Regions from separate parts of the Homo sapiens genome. Here region 2 is linked to region 1. The links come from fine-mapping of genetic effects on gene expression. Tissue or cell type: whole blood. Region 1 holds a variant in brackets; the other region holds the start of a gene. All regions are shown on one strand. Distances are from middle to middle.

Region 1 (10,930 bases):
GAGACATGGTTTCACCATGTTGGTCAGGCCGGTCTCAAACTCCTGACCTCAAGTGATCTGCCCGCCTCGGTCTCCCAAAGTGCTGCAATTATAGGTGTGAGTCACCCACCAAGTTTATCCCAGGGCATGTCTCACTTATGCTAAAAGCAAGTCCATTCCCACAGTAGCCCCACTGCCTTGCTGACCCCCAGGGTCTCTCCACACTCCTCTGTGGAGCTTATCCACCCTTCTGAGCCTGATTTCACACAGCTGCTCCTGCAAGGCACAGCTGATCTCTGCAGATGCCTGCAGCCATGCTGCCAGGGAGCCCAGGCAGTATGCTGCTCCCACTCTGCTGCTGGGCAGAGCATGCACAGCTGCCACTTCCTGCTGCTCCATGGGGTGCCTGGTCCTTCACCTGCCAGACCTCACAGCTCTCCGAGCCCCCAAGATGGTGCGTAGTGCCAGGAAGCAGAACAGGGGAGAATGGCTCTGCATTTGTTTTCCAGGGCTGCGGTAACAAAGTTCCACTCCCTGGGTGGCTTAAATAACAGAAATGTATTCTCTCACAGTTTGGAAGGCTGGAAGTCTGAGATCAGGGTGTCAGAAGGCTCGGTTCCTTCTGGGGGCTGTGCGGAAAGGCTCTGTTCCAGGCCTCTCTCCTTAGCTTGTCAATGTTCATCTTCTCCCTGCTTCCCTTCACATGGTCTTCCCTCCATGTGGCCTAGCTTTGGGTTCAAACTGACCCTTTTTATAAGGACACTGATCATATTGGATTAGGGTCCACCCTAATGACTTCATTTTAATTGCCTCTGCAAAGACTACCTCCAAATAAGGTCACATTTTGAGGTGCTGGAGTCAGGACTCCAACACATCTTTTTTGGGGGAATACAATATGATCCGTAACATGCTCCTTCCCTTTGTATTACAGCGTTGATCTCGAGGCCATAGACCTCATTCATTCGAACGAGGCCACAATAGCATGTGGACACACATCATGCTAGCTCAGTATTGCCCCACGCACAAACCAGGTAACTGCAGGGCTCAGAACCATCACGAGGTTGCTTTGCCCCTCAGTGTCTTTGGGAATTCCTGCACTGTCTAGGCCAGGCAGGGCCACTGCTCACGCCACCTCTTCCACGATGGCCTTTGACTTCACTCTGGTGCTCCACGTGGTGGATGTTCATATGGCACCACTTGCTCTAAGGTACCTCTTCAAGTTCTGTATAACTGCTGCCTGACACCCCTCGCAAATCAATGCCTGGGACCCTGATCCTGGGCCTTGCCTTTTTATTCCAAAAAGGATAGAGAAACTGATCTACCTCCCCTTAGAGGAGAACCACAGCAGAATTGCTCAAGTCCTGAGGTGGTACATTATCTAGAAAGATGGCTATTTTTCCCCACATCTACAGATACATACAGATATTGGACCCAGAGCCACAACCCACCTCCATTCCTCAGATCCTCTGCTGAGTTCTGTTGTTCATTCCAGACTCCTTCATTCATTCAGCTACTATTTACTGAGTCCCTAATATGTTTGAGAGACCTAATAATAACTACATGTATTAGTTTCCTATTGCTGCTATAACAAATTACCACAAATGTAATGGTTACAGGCAATATAAATGTATTCTCTCCCAGCCCTGGAGGTCAAAAGTCCAAAAAGGGCATTCTTCTGGAGGCTTGAGGGGAGAATCCTGTTCCTTGGCTTTTTCAGCTTCTAGAGGCCTCACATTCCTCGGCTTGTGGCCCCATTCTGTCCTCTACTTTTTTTCTTTTTCTTTTTCTTTTTTGTTATTTTAATGTTTTTGAGTACATAGTAGGCGTATATATTTATGGGGTACATGAGATGTTTTGATACAGGCATGCAATGTGTAATCACATCTTGTAAAACGGGGTATCCATCCCCTCAAGTATTTATCCATTGTGTTACAAACAATCCAAGTATACTCTTTTGTTGTTTGTTTGTTTGTTTGTTTGTTTTTGAGACAGAGTCTCACTCTGTCACCCAGACTGGAGTACAGTGGCGCAATCTCAGCTCACTGTAACCTCTGCCTCCCAGGGTCAAGCACTTCTCCTGCCTCAGTCTCCCACATAGCTGGGATTACAGGTGCCTGCCACCACACCCAGCTAATTTTTGTATTTTTAGTAGAGACGGGGTTTTACCACGTTGGCCAGGCTGGTCTCAAACTCCTGACCTCAAGTGATCCGCCTGCCTCAGCCTCCCAAAGTGCTAGAATTACAGGCATGAGCCACTGCGCCTGGCCAAGTATACTCTTTTAGTTATTTTAAAGTATACAATTAAATTATCATTGACTATAGTCACCTGTTGTGCTATCAAATACTAGGTCTTATTCATTCCTCCTATTTTTTGTATGAACTAACCACCCCAACCTCCTCCACAGCCCCCCACTACCCTTCCTAACCTCTGGTAACCGTCCTTCTATTCTCTCTCCCCATGAGTTCAATCGTTTTGATTTTTAGACCTCAAAAGTAAGTGTGAACATGCAGTGTTTGTCTTTCTGTGCCTGGGTTATTTCACTTAGCATAATGACCTCCAGTTCCATCTGTGTCATTGTAAATGACTGGATCTCATTCTATTTCATGGCTGAGTGGCACTTCATTGTGTATAAGTACCACATTTTTTTTATTCATTCACCTGCTGATGGACACTTCAGTTGCTTCCAAATCTTGGCTACTGTGAACAGTGTTGCGACAAACACAGGAATGCAGATATCTCTTCAATACACTGATTTCCTTTCTTTTGGGTATAGACCCAGCGGTGGGATTGCTGAGTCGTATGGTAGCTCAATTTTTAGTTTTTTGTAGAACCTCCAACTGTTTCTCCATAGTGATTGTACTAATTTACATTCCCACCAACAGTGTATGAGGGTTCCTTTATCTCCACATCCTCATCAGCATTTGTTACTGCCTGTCCTTTGAATATAAGCCATTTTAACTGGGTTGAGAGGATATCTCATTGTAGTTTTGATTTGCATTCCTCTGATGACCAATAATGTTGGGCACTTTTTATATGCCTGTTTGCCATTTGTATGTCTTCTTTTGAGAAATGTCTATCCAAACCATTTGCCCATGTTTTAACTGGATTATTAGATTTTTTTCTTGTAAAGTTGTTTGAGATCCTCCTATATTCTGGTTATTAATCCCTTATCAGATGGGTAGTTTGCAAATATTTTCTCCCATTCTCTGGGTTGTCTCTTCTCTTTGTTGATGATTTCCTTTGCTGTGCAGAAACTTTATTTTTTTGTTGTTGTTTATGGTTTTTCTTTTTTGTAATCCAAATTTTATTTCAAAATTTGGGAAACTTGATTTTCTTTTATATTTTATTTGCTTTTATTTCAACAGTTTTTGGGGAACAGATGGTGTTTGGTTACATGGATAAGTTCTTCGATGGTGATTTCTGAGATTTTAGTGCACCCATCAGCCAGATGAAAAATGCTCAGCATCACTAATTAACGAGGAAATGCAAATCAAAACTGCAATGTAATACCACTTTACTGCTATAAGAATGACCATAATCAAAAAACCAAAAAATAATAGATGTTGGCATGGATATGGTGAAAAGAGAATGAACTAATGGCATTCGCAGTAACCTGGATGGAATTGGAGAACATTATTCCAAGTGAAGTAACTCAGAAATGGAAAACCAAATATTATATGTTCTCACTCATAAGTGGGAGCTAAGCTATGAGGATGCAAAGCCATACAAATGATACAACGGACTTTGGGGACTCAGGGGAGAAAGGGTGGAGGGTGAAGGATAAAAGACTACACAATGAGTACAGTGTTTCTATACAGGTGTATAGTGTGTAAGTATCTTTTTCATATAATGGCTTCTTTTCTCCTGGGTAGAAACCCAGTAGCAGGATTGCTGGATCAAATGGTAGATCTGCTTTTAGTTCTTTAAGGGATCTCCACACTGTTTTCCACAGTGGTTGTACTAGTTTACATTCCCACCAGCCATGTAAATGTGTTCCCTTTTCACCACATCCACAGCAACATCTATTATTTTTTTATTTTTTGATTATGGCCATTCTTGCAGGAGTAAGGTGGTATCGCATGGTGGTTTTGATTTGCATTTCCCTGATCATTAGTGATGTTGAGCATTTTTTCATATGTTTGTTGGCCATTTGTATATCTTCTTTGGAGAATTGACTATTCATGTCCTAAGCCCACTTTTTGATGGGATTGTTTGTTTTTTTTTCTTGCCGATTTGTTTGAGTTTCTTGTAGATTATAGATATTAGTCTTTTGTCAGATGCATAGTCTGCAAAGATTTTCTCTCACTCTGTGGGTTGTCTGTTTACTCTGCTGATTATTTGTTTGGCTGTGCAGAAGCTTTTCAGTTTAATTAAGTCCCATCTATTTATCTTTGTTTTCGTTGCATTTGCTTTTGGGTTCTTGGTCCTGAAGTCTTTGCCTAAGCCAAAACGTCTAGAAGATTTCTCCAATGTTATCTTCCAGAATTTTTATGGTTTCAGGTCTTAGATTTAAGTCTTTGATGCACTTCGAGTTGATTTTTGTATAAGGTGAGAGATGAGGATCCAGCTTCATTCTTCTACGTGTGGCTTGCCAATTATCCCAGCACTGTTTGTTGAATAGGCTGTCCTTTCCTCACTTTATGCTTTTGTTTGCTTTGTCGAAGATCAGTTGGCTGTAAGTATTTGGCTTTATTTCTGGGTTTATTTCTTTGTGCCTATTTTTATACCAGTATGATGCTGTTTTGGTGACTATGGCCTTATAGTATAGTTTGAAGTTTAGTAATGTGATGCCTCCAGATTTGTTCTTTTTGCTTAGTCTTGCTTTGGCTATGTGGACTCTTTTGGTTCTATATGAATTTTGGGGTTGTTTTTTCTAATTCTGTGAAGAATGATGGTGATCTTTTTATGGGAATTGCATTGAATTTGTAGATTGCTTTTGGCAATATGGTCATTTTCAGAATATGGATTCTACCCATCCATGTGCATGGGATGTGTTTCCATTTGTTTGTGTTGTCTATGATTTCTTTCAGCAGTGTTTTGTAGTTTTCCTTGTAGTGGTCTTTCATTTCCTTGGTTAGTCATATTCCTAAGTATTTATTTATTTATTTATTTATTTATTTATTTTGCAGCTATTGTAAAAGGGGTTGAGTTCTTGATTTAATTCTCAGCTTGGTCACTGTTGGTGTATAGCAGTGCTACTGATTTGTGTACATTAATTTTGTATCCTAAAACTTTGCTGAATTCACTTATCAGTTCCAGGAGCTTTTTAGATAAGTCTTTAGCGTTTTCTAGGTATACAATCATATCAATGGTGAACAGCGACAGTTTGACTTCCTCTTTATAGATTTTTATTCCCTTTATTTCTTTCTCTTTTCTGATTGCTCTGGCTAGGACTTCCAGTACTATGTTGAATAGAAGTAGTGAAAGTGGGCATCATTGTCTTATTCCAGTTCTCAGGGGGAATACTTTCAACTTTTTGCCATTTGGTATAATGTTGGCTGTGGGTTTGTTACAGATGGCTTTTATTACCTTCTATGCCGATTTTGCTGAGGGTTTTAATCATAAAGAGATGCTGGATTTTGTCAAATGCTTTTCTGCATCTATTGAGATGATCATGTGATTTTTGTTTTTAATTCTGCTTACTGTTTATGTGGTGTATCACACTTATTGCCTTGTGGATGTTAAATCATCCCTGCATCCCTGGTATGAAACCCACTTGATCATAGTGGATTATCTTTTTGATATGCTACTGGATTCGGTTAGCTCGTATTTTGTTGAGGATTTTTACATCTATGTTTATCAGGGATATTTGTCTGTAGTTTTCTTTGTTTGTTATATCCATTCCTAGTTTTGGTATTAGGGTGATACTGGCTTCATAGAATGATTTAGGGAGGATTTCCCTCTTTCTCTCTTTTGGAAGAGTGTCAATAGGATTGGTACCAATTCTTCATTGAATGTCTGATAAAATTCAGCTGTAAATCCATCTGGTCCTGGACTTTTTTTTGTTGGTAACTTTTTAATTACCATTTCAATCTTGTTATTGGTCTTTCAGAGTTTCTATTTCTTTCAGGTTTAATCTAGGAGGGTTGTATATTTCCAGGAATTTATCCATCTTCTCTAGGTTTCCTAGTTTATGCTCATAAAGATGTTCATAGTAGCCTTGAATGATCTTTTGCATTTCTGTGGCATTGGTTGTAATAGCTCCCGTTTCATTTCTAATTGAGCTTATTTGGATCTTCTCTCTTCTTT[TCTTTG/G]TTACTCTCGCTAATGGTCTATCAATTTGATTTATCTTTTCAAGGGACGCACCTTTTGTTTCATTTATCTTTTGTATTGTTTTTGTTGTTGTTTCAATTTCATTTAGTTCTGCTCTGATTTTGGTTATCTCTGTTCTTCTGCTGGGTTTGGGTTTGGTTTGTTCTTATTTCTCTAGTTCCTTGAGGTGTGACCTTAAATTGTCTATTTGTGCTCTTTCAGACTTTTTGATGTAGGCATTTAATGATATTAACTTTCTTCTTAGCACTGCTTTTGCTGTAACCCAGAGGATTTGATAGATTGTGTCACTACTATCGTTCAGTCTCTACTTTTTCTTCTCGTATCACTTTCTGTGACTGTCCCTCCTGCCTTCTTCTACTTCTTTTTTTTTTTTTTTTTTTTGAGACAGAGTCTTGCTCTGTCGCCCAGGCTGCTGTCTTCTTCTTATAAGGCCCCTTGTGATTACACTGGGCCTACCTGGATAATCCAGGGTAATCTTTCCATTAAAAAATCCTAAGTTAATTATACCTGCAAAGTCCCTTTTGCTGTGTAAAGTCATGTATTCACGGGTTTCAGGGATGAGGAAGTGAACATCTTTGGGGGGCTGTTATTCGGCCAACCACACTGCATATCCAGTTGAATGGATTCTACCTCATAGTTTTTTCCTCTCATTTGCCCTCTGTCACTGCCTCCTTCTCTCCCAGTTGGCCCAACATACTTGTTCATAACTAACCCCTAATCATGGACAAAGTTTAAGTTCTTTTCTCAGAAGCTTTCTCTTCTGCTCCCTTGTAAATCAGGGCCAGAACCCTTCCCTTACTGGAGAGCCCTTCACCCTCAGAGGCAAGGCCTCTAGCTCTCCTGTTAGTGTCACAAACCGTAGTCAGGTATTTGGACAAGGATAATGCATCTATGGTGTGTGTGTGCAGAGTACAACCATGAATAAGCCTCCTGTGCTCTTCCATTTGCCCCTCCAGACCCACTCTCCACCTTTTTCCACCTTGCTTTGGATGCCAAGCACATAAACTCTAGGAACCAACCACATCAGTGAGCTCTCTTGTCCTCTGGCTTCCTGCTGGGCTTAGCCAGTGAGAGCACTGGCAGGAGTTGGAGGGTGGGAGGAGGATAGGGGTAAGATATGGACTCCTCTGACGCCTCTGCGAGGCTGCCACGGGCTGCCGCATCCCTTAGTGGAAGATCTCAGCTCCTGCAGGATGGCCCTCTCCACAGAGGCCTCTCTGAGTTCAAGCAACTTCTCTTTCCTCTCACACTTTCAGGTCTAGTTTTCCTGTCACCGGCCCCAGGTTCTGCACTGTCTCTTGTGCTTTGGCTAAATCCTGCTCACACATTTGTAAAGACTCTTTATTAAACTTTTCTCAGGTTACCCGTTGTGAGGGTGTCAACTGTTATCTGCTGGAATCCTGACTGTTACACTCCCCAAAATGTAATTTAGATGTCCTCCAAGCTGCCCTAGCTTATGGCTACAAATGAAACTATACTGTAATTTAGATCCAGATGTTGGTATTTCAACCCCACACCTAAATCAAGGCAGGAACCCAGTTCCCTTTCAAGGTTCTAGAACTCCTGCATCCCCAGGGATATCTCAAGCTTGGCTACTCCTCACATTTCCTCCTTGCCCCATATGCCATGGACCCCCCACTGAGAGCGTAGAGCTATCCAGTTCATTGGATCCACGCTCTTCCTGAAGCCCAGAGGCCCTCCTGCCTTTGGTATTAAGATACTCCGGGCCGGGTGCAATGGCTCACGCCTGTAATCCCAACGCTTTGGGAGGTCGAGGCAGGCGGATCACCTGAGGTCGGGAGTTCGAGACCAGCCTGACCAACATGGAGAAACCCCGTCTCTACTAAAAATACAAAATTAGCCGGGCATGGTGGCACATGTCTGTAATCCCAGCCACTCGGGAGGATGAGGCAGAATTTCTTGAACCCGGGAGGAGGAGGTTGCAGTGAGCTGAGATCGCTCCACTGCACTTCGGCCTGGGCAACAACAGTGAAATTCCATCAAAAAAAAAAAAATCATACTTTTTCTCTAAGCTAGATTGAGCTGGCTTTGGTAGACTATGGATATGTGAGTCAAAGTCACGTGACCCTGAACCCGACTGAATCTAGGCCTGGCTGCCCAGATCCCTTCATTGCTGATAAACCCTCTGCCCCTTCTGTGCCAGGAATCCCCTCCCTCCTGGTTTACTCAGAAAAAAGAGCTATAGGGCAGGGATTGTTTGACTCACCTCCCCACCCCATATCCACAAATGTAACCACTTCCCCACCTGTCCTCACTGCCTTCCTCTCATCTCAGAAGAAATGTTTCTGTCTCTCCATCTTTGTGCTTGATTCCTTCCTGCCTGCTCTGAGAACTGCCTCAATGGGGTACTGACTCCTCTCTTTCCCACATCTTCAAACTCTCTTCTACTAAAATAATTCTTTTTGCCTGCAAACATTCTCAAAGTTCTCCCAAATGGTTTTTAAAAGGCCTCCTTTGTTCTTTTGTTCTAGATTTGGCTATTTCTGTCTCTCTTTCCTTCCCTGCTCTTCCAAATGACTCAAAAGAATTGTCTAATTCTTCCAGCTCCATATCTTCACTTCTCATCCTCAACCCTGCAGACTGGCTCCTGCCCTTTGAGGCCATAGAAACTCTTAAATGCCAAGCCCAGTGGGCTCCTTTTGTCCACATCCTACTGGGCCTCCCTACTGCATCTAACTATTCCAAAGCCCTTGAGCTCTTCATCTCCTCCCCCAAGGGCAGGGTACCCATAGCAGAGGCTTGGGATTGCCCTCAATGAGCCTCCATCCCTTCCTTTTGTTCAACACCCCCCACAGAGTTTTACTGGAGAATACAAATGCCCAGTAGTACTCTACCTTCCCCATCCTCCCCTGCAGCTGGGCGTGGCACTCTGAGCTCTTGTCACTAGGATGTGAGCATTCTTGGTGCTGCGGAGCAAGAGGTGGGAGGCTCATGTTAAGGGTAGTAGCATCAACTCACCAACCTGGTCCCCAGAAGACACCCTGGATCAGAGCTAGCCCTGCAGCCATGGACTGCTCCTCTCTGGACTATAAAATAAACTCATATCTCATTTAAGCTATTATATTTTGGGGACATTTTTGTTATAGCAGCTTGGCCCATACTCTAAGTAACAGAGTATTGGTTGGAAGGAAGGCAATCTATAGGCCTTATAAAACCTCCTCCCTGACACCCAATATAATTTAGGTCCTCCTGTTACCCACTCTTTTAGCACCCTGTACCTCTTCCAAGTGTTTATCACAATTTGTGATTCAATAATGATTTGTGTAATGTAGTGGTCACTGTTGATTGCCTTCCCAGCAACTATCCTCCACCGCTTACTTTCTTTTTACTCCACAGAAGCCTGATTTTGTTCAGGTATGCATGCCTCCTTCATTCAGATTCGTGCTGCATAAAATGGTGAGCTTAGACCAATTAGGTTCTCTCTTGTAGATTCTGAATTAAAGAAACAAATAATGAGCCACTTACCAAAAGGATCTAAGACTGAAGAGTCTTAGATTTATAATGTAGAGAGAGCTAATGAAGCTACAATGGACCATGTCCATGCCCAAGTGCTAGGGAAACCAAAACTAAGTGCTAGGGAAACCAAAACTTCCTGCAGGGTCCAGCAGGAAGGACAGAAGCAGGATGTGATGTGCGCCGTGATGACCCGTGCATCCAGCCTGCGGAGGACCCATAGCCACCTTGGATCCAGTCATAGATAGTGTATTAGACTGTTCTCATGATGCTAATAAAGACATACCCGAGACTGGGTAATTTATAAAGGAAAGCAGTTTAATTGACTCACAGTTCCACGTGGCTGGGGAGGCCTCACAGTCATGGTGAAAGGTGAATGGGGAGCAAAGTCAGGTCTTACATGGCAGCAGGCAAGACAGCATGTGCAGGGGAACTCTCATTTATAAAGCCATCAGGTCTTGTGAAACTTATTCACTGTCACGAGAACAGTATGGGGGAACCACCCCCATGATTCAATTATCTCCACCTGACCCTGCCTTTGACACATGGGGATTATTAAAATTCAAGGTGAGATTTGGGTGGGGACACAGCCAAACCATATCAGATAGGATCCACAATTATCCCTAAAATATACCACCTTTCCCTGGTAGTAAAAGAAAGTGCACCCCTCTTTCTCATAATCAAGTAAGGCTGGATTCAGCTCTCCAAAAATGCTGCCTCTTTCATGCTTGCAGGCTTTGCATGCACTCTGCCATCTACTTGAACATGGTGAGGAAAGATGACAGGCAAGAATAAGGATGGTGATGGCGATAGTAACATTACCATTTATCAAGCATTCATATACATCTTATATACATTATTCTTAATCTTTATAACAATGTTGCCAGCTAGGTTCTGCTCTCCCTACTTCACAGATGAAAAAAACTGAGGCTTCAGAAGGACATTGACTTGCTTCAGATCACAAAGTTAGAAAATGGCAAAGCCAGGATTTGAATCCAAACCTATTTGACTCCAAAAAACAGGTTGCCTAGGCCTGCTGTCTCTTTGTCATTTTTTAAACTCAGCCTCTGGAGACAGACAGACACGGGTTTGAATTTGGGGCTCCAACACTTCCTAAGTGGGTAGCTTTGGGCAAAGCACTCCACCTCACTGAGCCTATTTATTCATCTGTAAAATGAGTTCAGCAATAAAACCCACTTCAGA
Region 2 (8,000 bases), 130 kb after region 1:
TGTGTGACTGTGTGGGAGCCTGGACTGACAGATAGGCCAAGGGCTACTCTCTGGCATCTCCAGGTGTTTTGTAGCAAACAGCCACTTAGTGCTTTGTCCTGGACTCCACTCAGCCTCAGGATGGGGAATAGCCAAGAATGGCAGCCTCAGCGCAGAGGCAAGGTCAGAAAGAGACGGCGCTTCAGAGTTTCCTTTCCAGACACCCCTCCCCGCACTGTGAAGTTCCCCTGACCGCCCTCCTGGTTCACAAAGAGCATTAAGAAAGCTGCGGTGGTCTGAGCAACATAGCCCAAAGGGCTGAGCCTCCTGGCCTGCCTGCCCGCCCACCCTGGGAGTCCCAGTGGTGAGGCTCAGAGAACTGCTAAGGGGAAAGAACAGCTGGAGTTTCTGTTGATGTGAAGAAGGCAGCTCTTGGCCTCCCACTCCCACACTTCTTTGCCTATAAATCTTCCTAGCAGCAATTTGAGCTACCTGAGGAGGAGGCAGGGCAGAAAGGGCGAGGGCCTGCCTCTGACCTGCCGTGTCCTTTGCAGGAAGGAGGTAGGCACCTTTCTGAGCTTATTCTATTCCCCACCCACACCCCCAGGCAGGGTTGGAAATGAAGGACTTTTTTAACCTTTGTTTTGTTTTTTAAAAATAAATCTGTAAAATCTGTCTCTTTGGTGCCTTTCTCCCCTAGGAATGCCTGTCTCTGGGCCCAAATGGCTACTTTTCACCCATACAGACAGGTGGGTCCCTGGGCTGGGGAAGGGACCTTAAGTGGATGGCATATCCTCCACACTTTTCTGGAGCTGGGTCATTTGAGGGTGCCCTCAGCTGCAGTTCACACGGTAGATACCAGCTTTCTTCACACGGTGTCCCTTGGAGTGAGAGGGTCCAGAAGCCCTTTCTGCTCTGCGCCCCCCTACCCGCCATTCCCACTTGGGAGATGATGACTGTTGGGCTAGCAGCCTCTGGACACCTGGGGCAGAACCCAGACTCTCCCATCTTCCAGCACACACCTCTCGATAGAGCTGCACAGCATCCAGAATAGCCTTGGGATGGCTTTGGTTCACTGAGCACTTTTGCATGCTCAAATAGAAAATGATTAGGGCAGAGATGAGGCATCTAAGCCTTGAATAAAGAAGGAGAAAGGGCATTCCAGACCGAGGCATAAGTGCAAAGGCACAAGCATGAACGTGGAAGTGCAAATGAGAGGCAGGTGAGCTGGCTGGATTAGACGTGTGTGCTGCTAACCGTGACCTGTGTTGACCACATGCCTCTGAACCAGGCACTGTGCTAGAAATGAGACTGGGGTGAAGCACAGAATAACCATGTGCCCTCTTGCGTGGAGTGAAATCTACCCCACATCTATGGGGGGAGGGGAAAAAGAGGCAGCTTGGCCTTACTGCTCCTCCCCCTTCATCAGGTTTTTCCCTAAGGGACCATTTCTACCTGTTAAAAATTTAGGTTATGGCTGCTCACATCTGTAAACCCAGCACTTTGGGGAGGCCGATGTGGGAGGATTGCTTGAGGCCAGGAGTTTGAGACCAACCTGGGCAACATAGAGAGACCCCATATCTACAAAAAAATACCAAAAAATGGCAAGGTGGTGCATACCTGTAATCCCAGCTATTCTGGAGGCTGAGGTCGATCACTTGAGCCCAAGAGTTCAAGGCTGCAGTGAGCTATGATTGCACCACTGCACCCCCAACCCAGGTGACAGACAAAAACCCTATTTTTTTTTAAAAAAAAAGCAGGGGTGGGGGTGGTTTGAGGGTCAGGCCACAACCTACTGAATCACAGTCTCTAAAGGACAATTACTTACTTGAAAGTAACTTTCAAGAACCAACACTCACATCTTAATAACTCCTCTTTGGAAAGCCTATTAAAATGGAACTGTCTTGGAGGAGAAACACACTGATTAGTTGATCCCCAGGGGGTAGAACTAGGGACTGGAAAGCCTGTCCCAGGAGGCAGGGAATGGCTGGCAGGACCCTGAGCTGACGGGAGGAGGAGGATGCTGAGATTGGGGAGTGAGCCCTGGGGAGCCCCCAGGCAAGAACGAACGCCCCATGTGCTGCCGCCTCTCCTGCTGCTGGAGTGCAGGCCACGTGCGCAGGTGCACCACTGGCCTATAGGACTCTGGGCAGTTCTTTTCACTTTCTGGACCTTAATTTTCCCTTTATGGAAGAAAATGAAAACCAGGCCCCACCTGAGTTTGTTGTGTGTAGCAAAGAGGGAGGGAACCAAACCTACTCCTAAAAGAAGATGTGGTGAATTTGATTCACACCAATAAGTATCCATCTTCTTTAGATGAAAAGCTCCAACCTGCTGCAAGTTTGCAGGGTGCACCTGCAATAGGCATTTGCTATTCCTGTTGTTTACACTTCACACTGAATTTCACAGACCTATTTCCATCATGATCCACAATTTAAAGAAATATTTCCCAAACTTGTATACACATTTCAATATCTATCAACTGAAACAAACATTTCATGAAACAAAACCTACCCTTACGTACAATATAGAATATTTTCCATTGTATTCCTGTTCGTATTTTAAAAATCTTGGTCACGACCCACTAAACTCATTACACGGCCTTCAGATAGGTCACAACTGGAACTTTAAAAAGCACTGCCCAGAGTAAATCACAACGGTTCAACATCCACGAATTTACATGGTTCTCTCTCCTGGGTGACTGGTGTATGTACTGGTGTACATTCTACTGAGAAGGTAAAGGGCTCCACTAGGTGAACTGTCCAAGGTCACAGGTGCCGAGTGCCCTTCAGATCTGGCTGAGGCTCTGTGCAGAACGGCTTTTCCTGCGTGGCAAACACCATACCTTGATTGCCAGCTGTTCCCAAGAACCAAAGACACTTCCCCTGGGGAGGGAAGAGGAGTCTGTACAAAATGACAGAGCCTCCAGCCAACCAGAACTGGCCTACTCAGACCCACCCTCTTCCAGGTGATTGGCCCCAAAAGGGTTGCCAGCCCCACTCCACCTTGGGGCCAGCTTCCCCCAAAAGGTTGCATCCCCGGCAGGTCCCTCGCAGGCAGTCCATCCTGACTGCTCCTGTGGGTGCAGCTCCTCAGGTAAAGGGGGAGGAGCTGCTTGTTCCAGATCTCCAGGAGCAGGCCATTTCTTCCCCAGCTCTAAGCTGGGAAAGTTTGCTCCAGGCCATCCTACCTGCTTCCCCATATGGCTCTCAAGGAGGGACTCAGGTGAGGGGGGACAATGGTATGGAGAGGAAGAAAGCTTGGGGACAGCTGAGCTAAGAGGGATCCAGTCTGATGGCTAAAACAGTACCAAGGGGAGGCACCAGAGTGAGCCCAGGAGTACCAGCTGAGCCTCCAGTCCTGGGGAAAGGTGGCTCCGAGAGGGGACATTGCCCCAGGAGAAGAAAGACAATCCGTGTGCATGGACACCGGGGTGGGGGAGGTTGTATTCCACAAGATTTTGTAGCCAATGAAAAGCTGGACTCCCCTTGCTTCCCTTAACTCTAAACCCCCTTGGCGAGCCGGAAAGCAGAGACCCGGGGGTACATTCCCTCCCCGACTGTAACTGAGAGCTCCCTCTATCCCCACTGGGACTGATGGTCCAGGACTAGGAACCTGTGCCCCCTTAAGACCTAATGGCTGATCTTTAACCCTTTCTTGAAGCCAACGAGAGTGGGGAGCAGGGCACAGGGTGGAGCTTGAGGGACCACCTTCTGCAGGTAGAACCTGAACAAGAAATGTGGAGGAGTGGACTGATCAGGGGCCTCCACAGACCACGGGCTCCCAGGCTGGGGCATAGGAGGGGCAGGAGGAGCTGGTGGGTCCCACCCAGTCCTGGGTCTCAGCACCCTCCCAGGCCTGACCACAGGAGTTCACAAGACCAACTCTGCCTGTGTGCCCTGGCTGAGGCCCAGAGCCCAGAATAAGCATCGGTTTGCCCTACCCTGGTTGGGAGGAGGCTGGTGAAGAGGGTGGGACAGCCACAGAGGGGGAGAAAGCCCCTCCAGCCTTTTCCTGCTCCTGTAGTACCTTACGCAGTACCTCGCACACCTCCCACAGTGCACCTCCCGAGGCAGCCTTGCCAGCTCCCAGTACGGGGTTTGACCAGGCTTCTAGGAACCAGAGAAGCCCAGCTGCAGCCAGCCCTCCAGGAGCTCAGACAGGAGCTGAATAGAGTGCGAAGGGAAGAAGCCAAGCCCACGGGGAGAAATAACAGGGCCGAGAACCTTGTGAGATGAGCCTCAGGGCTGAGCTAGGCCCAGGTCAAATGGAACCCAAATGCCATGCTGGAAGCTCTGGCTGGGGGATCGGGCAGTCCTACTCAAAGCCCAACCCCACCCATTACCCGCCGTGCAAATGCCTTGGTGTAAAGTGTAAACAGGAATGGCAAATGCCTACTGAAGGTGCACCCTGAAAACCTGCAGTAGGTTGGGGCTTTTCACCTAAAGAACACGGATACTTATTGGAGGAGAAACAAGCTGATTAGTTGATCCCCAGGGGGTAGAACTAGGGACTGGAAAGCCTGGTGCCCCAGGAGGCAGGGAATGACTGGCAGGACCCTGAGCTGACAGGGGAGGAGAGGATGCTGAGATTGGGGAGTGAGCCGTGGGGAGCCCCCAGGCAAGAACGAACGCCCCATGTGCTGCCTCCTCTCCTGCTGCTGGAGTGCAGGCCACGTGCGCAGGTGCACCACTGGCCTATAGGACTCTGGGCAGTTCTTTTCACTTTCTGGACCTTAATTTTCCCTTTATGGAAGAAAATGAAAACCAGGCCCCACCTGAGTTTGTTATATGTGTAGCAAAGAGGGAGGGAACCAAACCTACTCCTAAAAGAAGATGTGGTGCATCTGATTCACACCAATGAGGCCGCCCAGCCTTGCAGAGGTGAGCTGTCACTGAGATCTGCTCCAAGCCTCCATGCATCCTCTCTCACACAGTGACCCTGGCCCAGCCCCCTTGCTGAGCGCTGCCCTGAGGTATTGTGTGTCCCCTGGACAGCAGTATTCACCTGAGTGTCCCAACTCAGTGCTTCTCAAGCTGCAGTTTGCATTTCCTTGATCTTTCCTTCTATGTTCTCAGCGATTGATCCCAGTGACCCAAATGGACCCCTGCTTTCTCCCCTGAGCAACTGCAACCCTAAGCAAGTGATTTAACCTTTCTAAGCCTCAGTTTCCTCATTTATAAAGTAGACATAAGCACAGCATCTCCTTCAAGGGGCTGTGGTGTGCCTTTAACAGGACAGGCACATAATACACTTGGCCAGGTATCCGTCTCAGTGTCTGGGATTATGCATAAGGAGTGCAGACTTAATCTTGAAGAAAATGGAGTTTTAAGCAAAGGAGTACCAGTCAACTTGGAAGAGAGAATGAACACAAATAACTCATTCGTTGTTTCATTCATTTGCTGAACAAATAATTATCAATAGCATGAATTATGAGGCAGAGGCATAATGAGTGAGGCAGACAGTCCCTAGCATCGCTTGGCAGGTACTGGAGGAGAGGTCTGGGAAAGGGACAGAGGCACATCCTGGGGGAGGGACCTAACGGAGGAGATGTCAAGGCCAGCTTCAGACAGGAGGAAGCTGGGTGCTGAGGAATGATGCGGAGCTTGTTGGCTGATGGAAGGAAGAGTGCAATCAGAACAGAATACAGAGGTGGGGAAGCCTAGGAGACTTCATAGTGAAGGGTAAAAGATGGAGACTCGGAGGCAGGGTCAGGAGGCTGTTATAGGAATCCAAGTGAGAAACAAGGAGGCACAGATAGGACAGTGAGGGAGGCCAGGAGGGGAGTTTTGGGCACTAGGAAGGAGGCAAAAGCAACAACTTGGCTGTCGGGAGAGAAAGCAGGGGTCCCACTTGGGTCACTGGGATCAATCGCTGAGAACACAGGAAGGGGAGAGTGAATGGCAGGATGGGGGAGGAGTGAGTAGGGGGACGGAGGAGAGTGAGTGGGAGAACCCCCAGGGTTTGCTGATGGGCTGCATGTGGGGCATTAAATTATTTGTAACAATATTTTTATTTAAACCAGCACATCCGAATTTATACCTGTTTCACTGTTTTAATGTGGCTACTAGACATGTTTAAATTACATGTGACTCACACTATACTTCCACTGGATGATGCTATTCAAGATCTCTTCCTACACTCATGAAAGAACGCGGCTATACGTGACTGCAAAGGCTCGAGTGCACAGGCACAGATGCTTCCCCCTGCCAGAAGCAAGGTCTGCCTCTCCGTATTAGTTATTCCTTCCTTTTCACCTTAACACATTAGGGTCTGTTTTCCAGAGAGTACATATAAATCTACCTCACCCTTTTCAATAGCCATGTTGATTTCTATTATACAAGTTGAGCACCCCTCATCCAAAAATCTGAAATCCAAAACGCTCTAGAATCCGAAATTTTTTGAGCACTGACAGGACATTCAAAGGAAATGCTCCCACTGGAGCATTTTGAATTTCAGATTTCCAGATTAGGGATACTTAGCCAGTAAATACAATGCAAATATTCAAAACTCCAAAAAAGTCCAAAATCCAAAACACTTTTGGTCCAAACTTTTGGATAAAGGATACCCAACCTGTATAGAGATGCCTAATTCATTGATCCAGTTCCCTACTGATGAACCCTGGGGTTGTTGCATTAGTTTGCTTTTTCAGAGAAGGCTATGGGAACATCCTGGGACTAGTCACTGCAGAGTCTCCATTCCTAGCTGCAGGCAAGCTGGCCAGGGGCTGTGAGCACTGACAGTGTTACAGTGGAGGAGCTGGACTTGGGAGGCTTCTCAGGCATGGTTAAGAGATGTGGACGGTGTCCTGCACTCAGCAGGAAACCACAAAATAACTTCAATTTTTTTGTGTGTAAATTGCTAACTTTGAATTTTTCCTTCATTAAAAAAGCAACCTACTGTAAATACATTACAGAAAATTGAGGAGAAAATAAGAAACTAATTTTATTGCACAAACACATTCTTCCTTTTAGTCTTATTTTCTGATGCACGTTTTTATTCTTGCTTAAATTGTAATCAGAGTGCACCTCAATTTTAGATCCTGCTTTTTTCCTTTCATGTTCCTGTATGAGCATTTTTCTACGTGACTGCAGAGTCTTCCTAACACGTTTATTTGCCAGTCCCTTCAGCTGGACACTAAAGCCTTCTTCAGTTATATTTGAGGAGCTGAGATAATGCCTCTCCCTGTGACCCAAAACGCCTTCTCTGTGGGTGCTTTCCAGGCAGCATTCAACCAAGCTCAAGTCTCGCTTGTGTAAGGGAAACAAGCACACACCCATCAATACAACCACCCTGTCCCCTCCAGTTGCCACCCCATCTCTGTCCTCCTTACAGCCCGACTTCTGGAAAGACAGCCCCACTCCCACCCAACCCATGTGCCTCTCCTTAAGTCCTCTACCTCCTCAGTCTCCCTCCCATTCCCACCTGGTCTAGGCCTGGGCCCTGGCCTCCTCTCCCTCTGTACTCTCTCCCTCTCTCCCATAACATCCCTGCCCTCCTGGCAAATCCCAGAACTTTCTCCTGAGCCTGCCTGCCTTCTGGGCTCCAGCCCCCTTCCTCCAACCAGACAACCAGGCATCTTCTCCTTTCTGGTACCTCAGCCCCGTCCCTCAAATCCATGGCCAAGTCTTGCCCATGTGCCCTCCCTGACAGCCCCTCACCACCTATTCCTCCCCATCCAGCTGCCAACTCCCTGGTGTTGCCCCTGATACCTCCCAGGGGCTGGCACCTAACTCATCTTCCTGCCTCCAGCAGTGCCCTCCCTGCCACCCCACCATGGCCAGGCTCCAGATTTCAGCTGGAGTACTTTCAGGTTTGTGGAGGGTTTTTTTGTTTGTTGGTTTTTGGGTTTTTTGTTTTGTTTTGTTTTGTTTTTTCAAATAAAAATCTGACTGAGTCACTCCCCAGAGGAAATACCTTTCAGGGCTCCCCATGACCCTCAAGATGAAGTCCAATTCCCCGAGCCTGACATGCGGGCCCTGGGTGACCTGGCCCCGGCTCACCTCTGCAGCCTCATCCCT

The links. PIP is the estimated chance that this variant, and not a neighbour inherited with it, causes the effect.
Region 2: A3GALT2 starts here. The variant in region 1 is fine-mapped to the expression of A3GALT2 in whole blood (TOPMed, PIP 0.98).

Annotation. Positions count from the first base shown.
Region 1 is chr1:33,444,281-33,455,210 of GRCh38, reverse strand. No RefSeq gene overlaps it. Among named protein-coding and RNA genes, the nearest start is that of PHC2, 19 kb to the right of the region's middle. RefSeq lists an enhancer at 1-343. The variant TCTTTG/G (reference allele first, on the strand shown) is at 6,230.
Region 2 is chr1:33,316,280-33,324,279 of GRCh38, reverse strand. A3GALT2 (alpha 1,3-galactosyltransferase 2) reads left to right here and starts at 3,182. Exons shown (of 5, transcript NM_001080438.1): 1 at 3,182-3,204. The coding sequence starts at 3,182. PHC2 (polyhomeotic homolog 2) reads left to right here. Exons shown (of 15, transcript NM_001385109.1): 15 at 1-654.